Linked DNA regions of Homo sapiens: region 2 is linked to region 1. A link means that fine-mapping ties the variant in region 1 to the expression of a gene that starts in the linked region. Tissue or cell type: whole blood. Region 1 holds a variant in brackets; the other region holds the start of a gene. All regions are shown on one strand. Distances are from middle to middle.

Region 1 (8,184 bases):
ACAAAAGCCTATAAGTGTTGAAGTGAAAAGAAGAGTTGCGCATCTCCCACTTGAAGTCAAAACATAGAAATGATTAAGCTTAGTGAGAAAGGAACGTCAAACGCCAAGGTAAGCCCAAATATATGCCTCTTGTGTCCAACAGTTAGCCAAGATGTGAATGCAAAGGAAAAGTTCTTGAAGGAAATTTAAAGTGCTGTTCAAGTGAACACACAAATGATAAGAAAGCAAACAGCCTTATTGCTGATATGAAGAAAGTTTTAGTGGTCTGGATAGATCAAACCAGCAACACCATTCCCATAAATCAAAGCTTAATTCAGAGCAAGGCTGTAAGTATCTTCCACTCTATGAAGTCTTAAAATTGTGAGGAAGCTGCAGAAGAAAAGCTTAAAGCTAGCAGACGTTGGTTCCTGGGTTTAGAGAAGAAGCCATCTTCATAACATAAAAGGGCAAGATAAAGCAACCAGTGCTGTTGTAGAAGCTGCAGCAAGCTATCCAGAAGATCTAGCTAAGATAATTGATGAAGGTTGCTACACTAAACAGCAGATTTTCAATGTAGATGAAACAGCCTTCTTTTGGAAGATGCCATCTAGGACTTTTAAAGCTATAGAGGAGAGTCAATGCCTGCCTTCAAAGCCTTCAAAAGACAGCCTGACTTTCTTGTTAGGAGCTAACGCAGCTGGTGTCTTTAAGTTGAAGTCAATGCTCATTTATGATTTCAAAAATTCTAGGGTCCGTAAGAATTATGCTAAATCTACTCTGCCTGTGCTCTATAAATGGGACAACAAAGCCTGGATGATAGCACATCTGTTTATAGCATGGTTTACTGAAGGTATTAAGCCCACTGTTGAGATCTACTGCTCAGGAAAAAAAGATTTATTTCAAACTATTACTACTCATTGACAATGCGCCTAGTCACCCAAAAGCTCTGATGGAGGTGTACAAGGATATTAATATTTTACGCCTGCTAATACAACATCCATTCTGCAGCCCATGGGTTAAGGAGTAATTTCAATTTTCAAGTCTTATTATTTAAGAAATACATTTCATAAGGCTATAACTGCTATAGATAGTAATTCCTCTGATGGATCTGGGCAAAGTAAATTGAAAGCCTTCTGGAAAGGATTCGCCATTCTAGATACCACTGAGAACATTTAGGATTCATGAAAAGATTTTGAAGTGTCAATATGAACAAGAGTTTGGAAGAAGTTGATTCCATTCTCAGGGATGACCTTCAGGGGTTCAAGATTTCAGTGGAGGAAATCACTGAAGATATAGTGGAAACAGCAAGAGAACTAGAATTAGAAGTGAAGCCTAAAGATGTAACTGAATTGCTGCAACTTCATGATAAAACTTTACTGGATGAGAAGTTGCTTCTAGTTTTTTTTGTTGTTGTTTTTGTTTTTCAGACGGAGTCTCGCTCTGTCACCCAGGCTGGAGTGCAATGGTGTGATCTTGGCTCACTGCAACCTCCACTTCACAGGTTCAAGCGATTCTCCTGCCTCAGCCTCCTGAGTAGCTGGGACTACAGGCACGTGCCATCACACCCGGCTAATTTTTTGTATTTTTAGTAGAGAAGGGGTTTCACCATGTTAGCCAGGACGGGTCTCCATCTCCTGACCTCGTGATCCACCCACCTCAGCCTCCCAAAGTGCTGGGATTACAGGCGTGAGCCACCATGCCCGACCAAGAAGTTGCTTCTTATGGATGAGCAAAGGAAGTGGTTTCTTGAGATGGAATAATCTACTCCTGTTAAAGATGCTATGAACATTGTTGAAATAAAAACAAAGAATTTAGATATCTTACACAAACTTAGTTGATAAGGCAGCAGCAGGATTTGAGAGAACTGGCCCCAATTGTGAAAGAAGTTCTACTTGTGGGTAAACGCTATCAAACAGCATTGCCTACTACAGAGAAATCTTTCATGAAAGGAAGAGTCAATTGATGCAGCAAACTCTATTGTTGTCTTTTTTTATTTTTTTTTTAGAAATTGACACGACAGTCCCAGTCTTCAGCAACCGCCACCCTGATTAGTCAGCAGCCGTCGGTATGAAAGCAAGACTTTCCACCTCCAAAAATATTGTGACTCCCTGAAGACTCAGATGATCACTAACACTTTTAGCAATAAAATATTTTAAATTAAGGGGTGTACATTGTTTTTTAGACGTAAGGCTATTGTACACTTAATAGACTGCAGTATAGTATAAATATAACTTTTATATGTACTGGGAAAGCAAAAAATTGTTTGACTCACTTTATTGCAATATTTGCTTTATTATGGTGGCCTGGAATCAAATCTGCCATATCTTTGAGGTATGACTCTATAGCCAACTGATCTCAGACAAAGGAGCAAAGGCAATACAATAGAAACAAGTAGTGCTTTCAACAAGTGGTGCTGGAACAACTGGACATCCACAAGCAAAAAAAAAAAAAAAATGAATCTAGTCACAGACCTTATGCCCTTTACAAAAATTAACTCAAAATGGATTGCAGTCCTAAATGTAATATGAGAAACTACAACATTCCTAGAAGATGACATAGAAGAAAATGTAGACGACCTTGGGGTTGGCAATGCCTTTTTAGATAAAAACCAAAGGCAGGATCCAAGAAAGAAATGATAAGATGGACTTTATTAAAATAAAAATTTCTGTTCTGCAAAAGACACTGTTAAGAGAATGAAAACCCAAGCCATAGACTGGGAGAAAATATTTGCAAAAACATATTTGATAAAGGACTACTATCCAAAATATACAAAGAATCTTTAAAACTCAACAATAAGAAAACAAACAACCTAATTAAAAAATGGGCCGAAGACCTTAGCAGACACCTCACCATGAAGATGTACATGTGGCAAATACACATATGAACAGACGCTGCACATCATATGTCCTCAGGGAAATACAAATAGAATGAGATCCCAGTAAAAACCTATTAGATGGCCACAATCCAGAACACTGATGACACCCAGTGCTGATGAGGATGTGGAACAACAGGAACTCCCATTTGCTGTTGATGGGAAAACAAAATGACACAGTCATTTTGAAAGACAGTTTTGGCAGGTTTTTTATTTTTTTATTTTTTTTTTGAGACAAAGTCTCGCTCTGTTACCCAGGCTGGAGTGCAGTGGCATGATCTTGGCTCACTGCAACCTCTGCCTCCCGGGTTCAAGTGATTCTCATGCCTCAGCCTCCCAAGTAGCCGAGATTACAGGCGTGCACCACCACACCCAGATAATTTTTTATATTTTTAATAGAGACGGGGTTTGGCCATGTTGCCTAGGCTGGTCTCAAACTCATCGGCTCAGGCAATTTGCCTGCCTTGGCCTCCCAAAGTGCTAGGATTACAGGCGTGAACCACCGCACCCAGCCCGGCAGTTTCTTACAAAGCTAAGCAGACTGTTACCTAAGATCCAGCAATTGCCCTCCTTAGCATTTCCCAAAGGAGTTGAAAATCTATGCTCACACAGGAGCTACACATGGATGTTTATAGCAGCTTCATTT[GT/T]AATTGCCAAAACTTGAAAGCAACCAAGATGTCCTTCAGTAGGTGAATGAATACATGGAGTACATCCAGACCAGGGAACATTATTCAACAACAAAAAGAAATAAGCTATCAAGACATGAAAGGACATGGAAGAATTTTAAATGCATGTTACTAAGTTAAAGAAGCTAATCTGAAAAGACTACATACTTTGTATGTTTCCAACTACCTGACAGTCTGGAAAAGGCCAAACAATAGAAACAATAAAATGATCAGCAGTTGCCAAGGGCTACCGGGAAGGAGGAAAGAATAAACAGACTGCAGAGGATTTTTAGTACAGTGAAACTATTCTGAATGATAGTACAGTGATGGATACAAGCCATTATATATTTGTCCAAATACATAAAATGTACACCACCAAGAATGAACCCTAATGGAAACCATGGACTCAGAGTGATAACGATGTGTCAATATAGGTTCATCAGTTATAACAAATGCATCGGTCCGATGAGGGATGTTGCCAGTGGGGGGATAATGCGTACATGGGAATGCGTTATGGAAAAAATCTAGTATCTGCCTATCAGTTTTTCTGTGAACTCAAAACTGCTCTAACAAAATAAAGTCTATTTTTTAAAAAAGTTTTAGACATATAGACCCTACAATAAAAAACATCATGGAGGCCAGGCACACTGGCTCACGCCTGTAATCCCAGCACCTTTGGAGTCCAAGGCAGGTGGATCACAAGGTCAAGAGATCGAGACCATCCTGGCCAACATGGTGAAACCCCCTCTCTACTAAAAATACAAAAATTAGCTGGGCGTGGTGGCACGCACCTGCAGTCCCAGCTACTCAGGAGGTTGAGGCAGGAGAATCGCTTGAACCCAGGAGGCGGAGGTTGCAGTGAGCTGAGACTGCGCCACTGCACTCCAGCCTGGCAATAGAATGAGACTCCATCTCAAAAAAAAAAAAAAAAAAAAAAAAAACATGGAGAATATACAATGTGCCTTCCTATAGTAACAGACTGTGGGAAAATAAGGGCATCACATTCCATGAGCTGCTGGCAAACAAGACCCATTTTGTTTCAAGCACTAGGCTGGAGGGCTTGGACTGTACCAGAGACCAACAGTCCCCACACAGAGTTCAGAAAGATATATAGGCAAATAAATTATTTACTTGCAAGTAATTAAAAACATATTAAAGAAAAGGATGTGAAATAGTCACATCCATCATTCTCCTATATCAAGTTCCTGGATTTTAGTCTTTATTTGTAGAGTAGTTTAGGAAGAGGGAAGTGAGAAGAAGTAAAGCAAAATGGTAATGAATGATTCTTTATGGTAGGTAAGTTAAAAGGCCTGTGAGATTTTCCTTCTAATTTCATCTAAAAAGCATGTAATCATATTTTAATCATAGACTTAGAGGCTAGATAGAGCCTGTACTCTGTGGACATTATTACAGGCTAGAGAAGCTAGAGGAGTTATTATTACACATCATCTGGCCCAATCCTTTCATTTCGCAGCTGAGGAAACTGCAGACCAGAGAGATTAAGTGATATACCCAACATCACCCAAGATCACTCAACCAGTTTAGTGACCTGCAGGACTAGCATCTAGGCCTCTGACCCATCTGTTATATGCTCAATGGCTAAAATGGACCAGAGCAAACAAATCACTTCATTATATGAACCAATAAGAAAATTATCCTTGCATTGGAATCCTCTCAAAGGTAATTGTATGCTTTTCAAATGTGGCTTTGAGAAACTTGCTGATCTTAAAAACAAAAGAATTATAGAAGCCAAGGTGGACATTCAAGAGAGCATCAAGAAACAAAGATTTTGATGGAAGTCAAAATCAGCAAAAATAATCTCTTCAAGATAGGAAGCTGGATCAGATTAAGTGTGACAGTAAGAGTCTAAGGACGTTTGTTAAATGAGTGCTCTTGACAACCCAAGCTCATTGGAACACCAGGAGGCTTAGAACTTCATGTTCCATTCTGTGTAAAGGAAGTTTTTCTACCATGATGAGTAATAGGCCCAGGGTTTAGTTCATTCTTCCCATCTAGAACATTCTTTTCTCCTGGCTGCTCTTCCCAGTATGACTGCCTCTCAGTCTCGTTAACCATAACCCCCTTCATGTGTAATTTATCCAGATTTTACTCATTTGTGAGCTTGAGGGGAAATGTGAGAGGGAGTCATGCAGGACAATTTGCCCTCAGACGTTGGACCCTACCTAAAGATTGTGAAATGACCATGGAGTTCCATTGTTATGGATATACACGAAACCCTGAATGGATCACTGGATGTGCTAGAGACTATGCAAAAACCCAAGGAAGCTCCTAGCACTTAGGTATTACCAGTTTCCAGGCTGGTGATGTTTTTGTAGTCTTAGACCAAAGCCGCTGAAGCTTGGGCATTGGCCTTGAGTCCTCAGGTTTTTCTGTTGCGGTCAAGGACTCTCAATGTTGAAAGTGCTAATAGAAAGCAGCGCCCATTAAAGTCTCATGAAGCCCAGAGCTACAGACAGAAGACATTATGAATATCCATAACTATTTACATTAAAATTTGCACATTGATATGGTTTGGGACTGGGCGGGGTGGCTCACACCTATAATCCCAGCACTTTGGGAGGCCGAGGCGGGCGGATCATTTGAGGTCAGGAGTTTGAGACCAGCCTGACCAACATGGTGAAACCCCATCTCTACTAAAAATACTAAAGTTAGCCAGGCGTGGTGGCACACACCTGTAGTCCCATCTACTTGGGAGGCTGAGGCAGGAGAATCACTTGAACCCAGGAGACGGAGGTTGCAGTGAGCTGAGATCATGCCACTGCACTCCCGCCTGGGCAACAGAGTTAGACTCCATCTCAAAAAAAAAAAAAAAAAAATATATATATATATATATATATATGGTTTGGATTTGTGTTCCCACCCAAATATCATGTTAAATTGTAATCCTCAATGTTGGAAGTGGGGCCTGGTGGTAGGTGACTGGATCATAGGGGCAGATTTCCCCTTTGGTGTTGTTCTCATGATAGTGAGCTATCACAAGATCTGGTTGATTAAAAGTGTGTAGTGCCTCCCACCTCGTTCTTTCTTCCACCTGCTCTGGCCATGTAAGACAAGCCTGCTTCCCCTTTACCTTTCGCCACGATTGTAGCTTTCCTGAGGCCTCCCTGGCTATGCTCCCTGTACAGCCTGTGGAACCGTGAGCCAATTAAACCTCCTTTCTTTATAAGTTACCAGTCTCAGGTATTTCTTTATAGCATCAGTGCAAGAATGAACTAATACACACATTATTTATTTCTAAACTTTATGCAGACACAATCAGGGAAAGATTGAGGATGTGCTGGTATATTTCACCAGCTGCTTGCATTAGGCTCAACGTAGAAATCTTGGGATATATATTTATCACCTGTCAATCCAAGCTAAAGGTGTCCATCAAGAGAATATTTTCACTGTTCAGCAGGCAGCAAGAACTCCTTCCACGAACTCACATACTGATGAGGACAAACACCCTTGGTACATATCTCCCTTTGTTCTTTTTAAACTCCCTCTTCCCTTAAAGGCAGCCACCCCAAGGGGCAGCATGACAATAATGAAGAAGCCAGATGTCCACAGTCCCTCTTTCTGCAGCTCTGGGCTTCATGAGGTTGCAGTCGGGTGCCCATTCAACACTGAGAGCACTTCACAACAATAGAAATACACCAGGACTCCAAGGCGACACCCAAGCTTCAACTGCTTCAGGTTGAAGACTAAAACATCACTGGTATGATTTTGATTTATACTTTTTGTCACAGACGAGTTTCTGCTGACAGTGGACAGGGGTTGGGCTGTCTGTCTCTGCTAAAGTGGCCCTTGTGTCCTCTTAGCAGTAGTGCTGGGTGCTCTGCCCAGAGTCTCACTTACTATGGAAAATGAAACATCAAAGCTACCATAGGTAAGTATGAGCATAAGGAAAGAAGAGCTTCTTAAAGAAGCTATGGCAACAGGAACCTGGAAGTCTGGAATTGTGTAATATCCATGGCTTCATAAAAGAGAGGTCACATGTTTACCAAAATAACATTACCTTTAGGAGGCAAGGCCAGAGAAATGGGGAAGCTCAGAAGTATCCTAAATTTGATAAATGTATTGGGAATAAAGATCTTATGGTATGTTGCTGGGGACCGTTAAAGAAATTTCTTTCCTACAAAAATACCAGGACAGCCAGGATTGTCTATAAACCATTTAATTTCTTGATAGATATCGTTTGTTTTCCAGCTTTTCACTTTCATGAACAAGCCTGGGATGTGCAGTTTTGAGTGTTTGTCTAATTATTGCCTTTAGGTAGCCTCTGAAATATTATGCTAGATACAGTAGGAATGGTGCTGGGTGCAGGGGGTCAGGGGAGGGGGAGGTGTGGAAGCAGCTGAACTTGGTGAAGGTGACATTTAAAAGGGAATCCAAAAAGGCAAGAGAGTAAGTGCAGGGAAAAACAAACCGGGAACAAAGAAGACAAGAGCAGGGAGAGACAATGTAGGTTTTTGTTTTTTTTTTTTTAATAGCTTTGGTTGCTTATATTTCACTCCTAAGCTTGTAGAACTGATTACTACCCCTCCTCTGTAAAAGCCTCACCTCTTGGTTACTTCATAACTCTCTGACCACTCCAGCCTCTCCTGGTTCCCATTTCTCTCTTCACTATTAAATGTAAGCCTTCCACGAGATTGTTTTTCTCCCTAG
Region 2 (8,184 bases), 54 kb after region 1:
GTGAGTTCATCCGATGAGTCAGAAGAAGGAAACCCCTGAAGTCAGAGAGAGTCAGAAGCCCAAGACTAAAAAACAGAGAAAGTGGAACTGATTCCCCAAGACTGGTCACTGCTGCAAGACAGGACAAAACTCATCTCTAATGAGATGGCCACATGCAGCTGAAACGTGCCCAAGTGGAAGCCAGGAAAAGGTTTGGGAAGCACATTCCTCCCTTCCAGGTGACACGCACATCCCCCACCCCAGGTGCACACCCCTGTATAGTTTAAGCAAAGCAGCTGATTAAATCCTCCCATTCAACCCCAAATACCTCTCCCTACTAAAAAGCTGAGGCCCCCTTTGCTGTTCACAGTACTCTTGGGCACGCGCCTCCAAACCACGCTCCAGCCTGCCCCTCCCCAATTTAGGGCAGAGAAAAGTGGATGAGGTTCTCACACTCCTCAGGGTAGGCCTGAGGGGTACAGGCCATGGCTGCCTGGGGGTTCATGAAACAAGGAACAGGACTGCAGCTCACAAATACCCCTTTTTTGATTCCTCGTTCCAAATTCGCCTTTTAAGAAAATCACCTCTCATCAAAGGAGAGAAAAGAAGGGAGCAGGGGGATGTGAGGGAGAGGAGACAAGAAGGGAGAGAGAAAAATCATTATAGTTTTGTCCCAGGAACTAGAGCAATTTGGGATTTCACGCCCTTCTGAAGCTGAATGGCATGGACCGAACTGCACTTTGTTTGGAAAGCAATGAAGTGGGTGGGAGGGGACTCTGGCAGCTGCCTGCACTGCCCCCCAGCACCCTTCCTACCAGTCTGCCTGCAGCCAGGAGAAAACTCAGAAGAGGAGAAGTCAGAAGTTGAGGTAATGCTCTGCTGAGCTGGGCAGGCTGGCTGTGCACACCATAAGGTCAGCCAGGAGGCTCCTAGAGGGAACGCTCCGTGGTGCACCAACCTGGGAAGGAGGGCTCATCCTAGGAGAGTCACAGGCAGGGTTTCCCCCAACAGCAAAGCAAAAGAAGGGTTGTGAAAGGGTCAGCGGAAGTCCCCCGGCTTCAAATCTTTCCTGTTTCCTTCTGCCCCTGCTTTCCCCAGGCGGGACTCGGCATGGTCTCCGAGTGGTGTGCCTAATCTGGTTGGAATTTCCTCCTCCACCCACCTGGCATGCTCCTCAAGTCTTGAGCTCTCCTGATCAGACCAGGGGTTCTTGTATCCACCCCAAGTGCCCCTTGCCACTCTGGAACACCAGAAAGAGGCTCATGGAAAACCTGCCACCAGACCCCGCCTAGACAGGAGTAAGTCATTGCCACCATTTGGTGAGAGCCCTGCAGAGACCCTATACTCCCTCCCTGGGTATCACTTTGCTGCTCACTGTCATCGCAGGGGCAGCCAAAGGTCCCAGTAGACTGGCCCTTTATGGATGAATGAGTGCTCACATCCCACCATGGGAGGACCAAGGGAAAGAAGAAGACACAGGAAGCAGCAGGAAAGTTGCCAAAGGTCTTCCAAATACCCATTTCATAATCTCAGTGTTGCCTGCTGGGGCTCCAGAGATATTTTCTCAGGTTCAGTGGTTTTCATATTTGTTTGACCACAACTCCCAGCCAGAAGTACATTGTACACGTCTGTAAAATGCACTCAGAGACACACACACAACCCAAACAGAATTTCAACATTTCTCCCACTGCATGCCAGGCACACCCGTATTTTTACACTCTCACTAATAACTTCTTTTATTTATTTATTTATTTTTAAATGCAGAGTCCACTAATGGGTCATGGCCCACCATGTAAAAAACACTAGTTATTAAAGTGACACTGGGGATGTGAGGTGTGACCTCACGAAGAAGCAAATTTAATATTATAATGGGAAGCATCCACCAGGCCGACTTTGCACTTAGAACTGCAAAATAAGTAGCATCAGGTTCAGGGTTGAAAGTGACCAGCACAGAGCTCCACAGTCCACATTACCTAGGATAGAAAAAAGCCAGCCGATTCAACATTCTTATTTGTCATTACAAGATCAAAGTTAAAAATGGCGCCTTTCAAAACTGGAGAAAGCTTTCTCTCTTTCAAGATCCGATTTACATAGATTTGTTTTCAGCTGTAATAATTCTTTTGATATTTCAAGTAACATAAAAGAGGACGATGGGTGTTGTGTGTTCAGAGAAACGAGGCATGGGTTAAAAATGTGGAGAGGGACTGAGCAGGTCCACTGTCCCCACTTTATAGTGACAAAACTAAGGCACAGAACAGTGCCCGAGGCATGAAGCAAGTGAGAGCAGGGCTTGAAGCCCAACCCGGGTTTCTTGACTCAGTTACTCCCGGTCTTCGCCATCATCCAAAATACTTAAGAGGAACACAGGTGTGGTCTCCCCCAAGCCTTTCCATGATGGAGGATGCACCCCTGACTCCTCATGCTTGGCAGACAACTGTGCTGATGTTGGCAGACCTTGGCACTCAGTGGCAGCCTCAAAACCAACCCTGCACACTTCAGCATGGAAGGGCCCCTAAGGGTCAGTTATAATCCCAGAACCTAGAAGACTTCACTGATTAGCTAACCCACGCCTTGTTTTACAGACTTGTCTAGGAAAACCAGACCGGCTCCTTCTACCATTCACACCATGTTAACCTGTCCACAGGTGAAAACTGCTATGGAAAGTAATACTAAGTATACAGGTGACATCTGAACCAAAACATATCAACATGTATGGGGCAGGGAGAAACTAAACACAGATCACACAATTTAAACGTGTGAGAAACGCCTCTTGAGAGTGTCAAAGGGTGCTCAGAAGGCACAACTAATTATTTCTAATCCTAAAAATAAGCTAAAATGATGCTCTAAAGTGAACTCACTGTGGGGTTCCCGAATAGAACATTCATCTCAAGACACCAGTAGGACTAGGGCCTGCTCAGATAACACCTCCCTGCTCCTAACTTTCCCCAGACTCTGCCCAGGGCAGTTGAGACAACAGCTTCAATCATGGAGAATTTTATTACATTTGAGGGATTCTTTCCCATACAAATGCCACCTGGTATCAGTCCAGTGTCTTTCCTGGAGATGAGAACCATTCCTCTAACTCCCCACTGGGACACTGGAGGGACATATGGGTGATGGCTCAGGCTTAGGTCCAGCAGCACCTTGGAAGCCCATGTCTTTCCTCACTGGACTTCTGCCTGTCCAGACACTGACTGCTGGCTCCAAGCGAGCTCCCCGGAGCCGGGAAAACCCTCTGAGTTATACTTTCTGGCCTTCATACCTGCTCATGCAGGACCAGCATCAGCAACAAGATAAAGCTGCTGGGGGTGCCTCTGTGGGACCTGCCTTGCAAAATAATTGCCACCTAGAGAGGCCTCCGAATCCTCCAAAGCACACTGCAGCTGCAGCCAGAGGATAGGAGGTGGTGTAGGAGCCTGGGCAAGGTAATCGGTTCGCCTCTCTGCGCCTCAGTTTCTTCATCTGTTAACCCCCAGGGCTGTTGCATGAATTAGGCGAGTTATGCCTATAAAAGTGCAACGTGTAACAGTCAATACTGGCATTACTTCCTGCACTACTCTATCCTGGCCCTGGGGTGTTCTGGGCAGGCTGACAGAGGGCAGGTCTCAGTCTACCAGGCAAAACGCACCTAGTAACGCTGCCTCTTTACAGAAATGCAGTTAAAACTACCGGGGCAAGTGACAGACAGGGTTTAAAGGAAACTGAGTGCCTCTCACACAATCCACAGCAAGGGCTGTAAGGCACAAGCCCACCCACCTCCCCGCAAGCAAAAGGAGAAGGCAAACGTCATTGCCTCCCGGCGGCTCGGCGACCCAAAGTCGGGGGAAGAAGTGCAGGAACCCTCAGAAAGGGGATCCCACGGGCCGCTGTCGAACCGGTAAAGAGCTGCCACTAGTCGAGAGAAGACTTGCCGGCCCCAAGTTCCCGAAATAACCCGGGGAGCAGCAGCCACACACCAAGTCCCGAGGGCGCGCGGCCGGGCCAGGGCCACACGTTTCTCAGCTCCAGCGTGGTGAGGGCTTCCCCTGCGGGGAGCTCCCTCGGAAACCGCGCACGTGTGGGCGGCCCCAGCCAGCCCGAACGGCCAGCGTGGTAAGACTGTGCAGAGCTTCAGCGATCGCGTCCCCCGGGAGCCCAGTCGCCGCCGAAGCCAGCGGTGCTCGCCACTCCGCCTCCCCCGCCTCAGCGCCGCCAGCAGCCGGGGCCGGGCACGCGGCTGGAGCAGCGGGCGGTGCGGGGCGAGGACCGGGCACCCTCGCGGGGTCGGCGGAAGGCGCGGCGCCCAGGCTGCGCGCAGCTGCTCCTGGGGCGACCCCGGCCAGCCGCGGTCCTGGGGAGAGCTCGGTTTCGGGACGCTGCCCCGAGGCTGCCGGCGCGCGGGATGCAAATGCGCGCGCGCGCTCCTTCTCCGCTCGTTGCGTCCCCGAAGTCTCCCCGCGCCTCACCTTCACCGAGTCCACCGGGTACATGACCGAGTGCTCCAGGATCCCGGCCATCGCTCCTGCTGTCATGTGGGTGGACACGGAGGCGCTAGTCGGCAGGTTCTCGTAGTCCTCCGACCCGGTGGCGTCCTTGCCGCCGCCGCCATCTCGGCTGTCCCCATCCATCCTCCGCGCCACCGCCTGGCTGCCCACGCTCCCGCTGCGCAGCTCCATCCGCCAGCTCGGCGGGGCGCAGGAGGCTGCAGGAGGTGGGCAGGGAGGGGGAGGGGCGCAAAACTTCACTTCTTAAAGTGGGAGCCACCTCCCCGGGGCCGCGGCGCCTGACGCCATGGCGGGCTGGGGTGGAGCGCAGCGGCCAGAGACACCAATCGCCGGGAACCAAGAGGCCGGCGGCCGCCGCGCCATTGGTGTGCGGGACAGTGGGGACCCGCCTCCCTGTGTGACGTCACCGTCCCGTGCACATTTCCAAGCAACCGGACGGGGGCGAGAGGAGACGTGGGGTGGCCCGGAAAGTTGTACTATCTTGAGGATGGGCTGGTCCGCGAGGGGCAGGGGAGGTCATTGGGGAGGGGCCGCAGTGGGGTATGCCCAGAGCTGGAGGCATGGGTGACAGTGTCTCGGGGAAAATCCGTCCCCGTGGCGGGTGGGTTTGCAAACAGAATCGCTCAGTGAGCTTTGGCATTCCTAAGGCCTGAATTCAAACCTCAGGGGCCCGTTCTAGACTGCTTTGTTGGAGAGACCCCCATTCATTCGAAATTGTTTCTCTCAACCTAAATACATAATGCAGAGCTAAATGTGTTCCTCTTGTTCTCACCGAGAGACCGAACCCACCCTGCCCTGGACCGAGCAAGGCTATAAGGAGTGACCAGGAGGGAGCCCCTCTGAGTAGGCACCTCCAGGAAATTTTCTTTGGGTTTGATAGGCCCATAAGGTCTGTAGAGGCCTGATCTCACAGTTAGGAGTGTGAACTGGCTGAGAGTAAAATCTTACAGCCTTGCCCCTGCCTGTCTTAAGACTGTGGTCACCTAGTTCTTAAAGTCGTCCTAAGCTGGCCTCTTCAATAAAGTGTAACCCAGGCTGTTTTAATATTGTTTTGCTCCAGTCTGGGGAAAAAGGGAGAAATCAGAAAGTAGGGGAGGGACCTGTCTGCCTCTGGAAGTGTCCGTCTAAATTGCGTGTTCCAGGGCTTAAGATGACTTGGGCTGATCAACTTGTAGGCACCAGGGCCTCCCTGCCTTATCTAGACAAGGCTTCTCGTCAGGAAAGCTGGATCCTGAGATATGAAAGGGTGGGGAAGACCCTGAAGAGGCTGAGCCTACTCTCTGCCCTCACCGTGATCAGCATCCCAAGCAGCTCTTAGGGATTTGAGATACAGTAATGTGAGCATGGGTAGAGGTCAATAGAGGCGTCAGGACCAAGAGCACTGTTTGCCTAGTTTTGGTAGCTGCAGATAGTAGCTGGCAAGCTGAGTGCTAAGGATGTGATAAGTAAAAACAGGCTCTGTGTTTTTACTTAGCCATCTCTGTAATGGCTAGAGAAAACTCTACTTTTGTCAAAGGTCGTTTTTAAGAAATACTGATCAGAAGCTGTTGATCCTTATTTTTAAGTGGATGCCCTTTAAGCATTAAGTCTGTAAGAACCCACTGCCCCACTTCTGGGAATGTAACAAAAACCCAAATACACAGGAAGCTCTTCTTCAAAGCATTCCTTAGAGCAGTAAATCATTGGAAACAACCTAAATGGTCAACCAGAAGGGAATGGCTAAGGAAATTATGATGTGTGCATAATATTAGTGAAATATTATGCAGCCTTTACAAGTGGAATTTACATTACACGACATGGACGATGATTATAATGTAATGTTAGGTGAAAAAAACAAAACGAAATTCTATAACCATTGCATTCACAAAGATGTAAATGTGCTCAGGAAAAGAATCGCATGGTTACTGTGCTAGTGATGGAGGCTTATAGGCAACTGCTTTGACTTTATTTTTCAGACTTTAAATAATACTTTTATTATTTCTGTAATTTAAAAATAAAAAACCATTCTTTTTAGGAAATATATACCATATTTACACATACATACACACATCTATATATAGAAGTATATATGTATAGAATATAGATATGTGCATATGTATAAGATATATAGATAGGATATAGAATATACACATATGTACATATATAAAATATGTTGATTTGTGTATATAAATATATATAGATATATGTGTATATATAAATGTATTTTTTTACTTAGCCTCTCAGCATTCATATCCATGTGTATATATAAAATATATATACATTTTATGTATAAATATGTACATTTTATATATATAAATTTTATATTTTATGTATGTTTTATATAAATTTTATGTTATATATATTTTATATAAATTTTATATTATATATTTTATATAGATTTTATATTTATATATATTTATATATTTTTTATATTTATATATATTTATATATATTTTATATTTTATATATATTTTATAATTTATATAAATTTTATTTTATATATATTTTATAATTTATATAAATTTTATATTTTATATATAAGATATATACACGTCTATATATTTTACACATATTTAATATATACCTATGTATATATGATATATACACCTATGTATACATATATACATCTATGTACATATATACACCTGTTATATATGTATGTATATTATATGTATACCTATATTATATATAATACATATGTATAAGATATATTTTATATATATATACACACACACACACACACACACCTCCTAATGGATGAGAAACCCCCTGAACTTTGCAATGGTGATACCAGTGGAAAGAAGTTGCCTTTTGATGGTTAAGAGAATTCTTAGCAAATGTGAATATGCCCATAATCTTCACAGACGTGATTTTTGTTTAATTTCATTAAATAAATGTTAGAAACAGTTGAAAATCTTTGGAATATTGATTATTTAACAGAATTCAATATTTTTTTCTCCCCACCTATGGTAGATATGGTGGTTTGGCACTTAGCATCTTGCACTCCTCCTTGGACTGCAGTGGCCAGAACATGTAAAGCCACATTTCTCAGACTTTCTTGCAGCCAAGGGTCTAGCCATGAATTATATTCTGGCAATAGATGAATTGGAAAGATCTGGAAAGTGAACATGAGCTGAAGCTCCCTTCCTGTTCTTTGGTGTTTTCTGCTGCCTAGCAAGGTCACAGACACTTGAGGCAGGAACAGTTGGGGCGGGCAGTGGGTTCCCCACTGCAACAGCATGGCAGTGTTTGGTCACCAGATTCATGGATGCTGAGAGGTATTTATGGAATGAGGGGGTGCAGCAGTGATAAGTGGCAGCCTCCCGATCCCCGCACCGTGACTTTGTAGGTGGCCTTCTGATTCCTTGCCTTTGAGGCCATGGCAGAGGTAGCCAGTCCCTTGGGAAGCCAGTTTGGCAGTGTGGATCTGTGCCTAAACCCCTCCCCACGGTTTTGTGCATAGCAGTGAAAGGGCATAGTAATGAAGGCGCCATCCCGGATGTCACAAGGCAGCAGCCGGTCCAGCTCCCAGACCTCTAGGGAAGGCATGCTGCGAGAGGGTGGCATCCCAGACAGCATAACCCAGTGCTTGGGCCACACTGCCATCAGGAAGGGAGCAGCTCTCTCTTTGAAAGGCAAGAACATGGCAACCAGGAGCAGAGGAGTGGCAGCTCATTTGGTCCTCTCCCATGGGGCAGGCCAGGAAGCTCAGAATGACTTGTTGCTTCTATCGGAGTCTTTC

Evidence for each region. PIP is the estimated chance that this variant, and not a neighbour inherited with it, causes the effect.
Region 2: SLC25A37 starts here. The variant in region 1 is fine-mapped to the expression of SLC25A37 in whole blood (INTERVAL, PIP above 0.99).

Annotation. Positions count from the first base shown.
Region 1 is chr8:23,579,021-23,587,204 of GRCh38, reverse strand. No RefSeq gene overlaps it. Among named protein-coding and RNA genes, the nearest start is that of SLC25A37, 54 kb to the right of the region's middle. The variant GT/T (reference allele first, on the strand shown) is at 3,498.
Region 2 is chr8:23,525,453-23,533,636 of GRCh38, reverse strand. SLC25A37 (solute carrier family 25 member 37) reads right to left here and starts at 4,681. Exons shown (of 4, transcript NM_016612.4): 1 at 4,425-4,681. The coding sequence starts at 4,634. RefSeq lists enhancers at 3,578-3,647, 4,938-4,987 and silencers at 4,148-4,397, 4,448-4,807.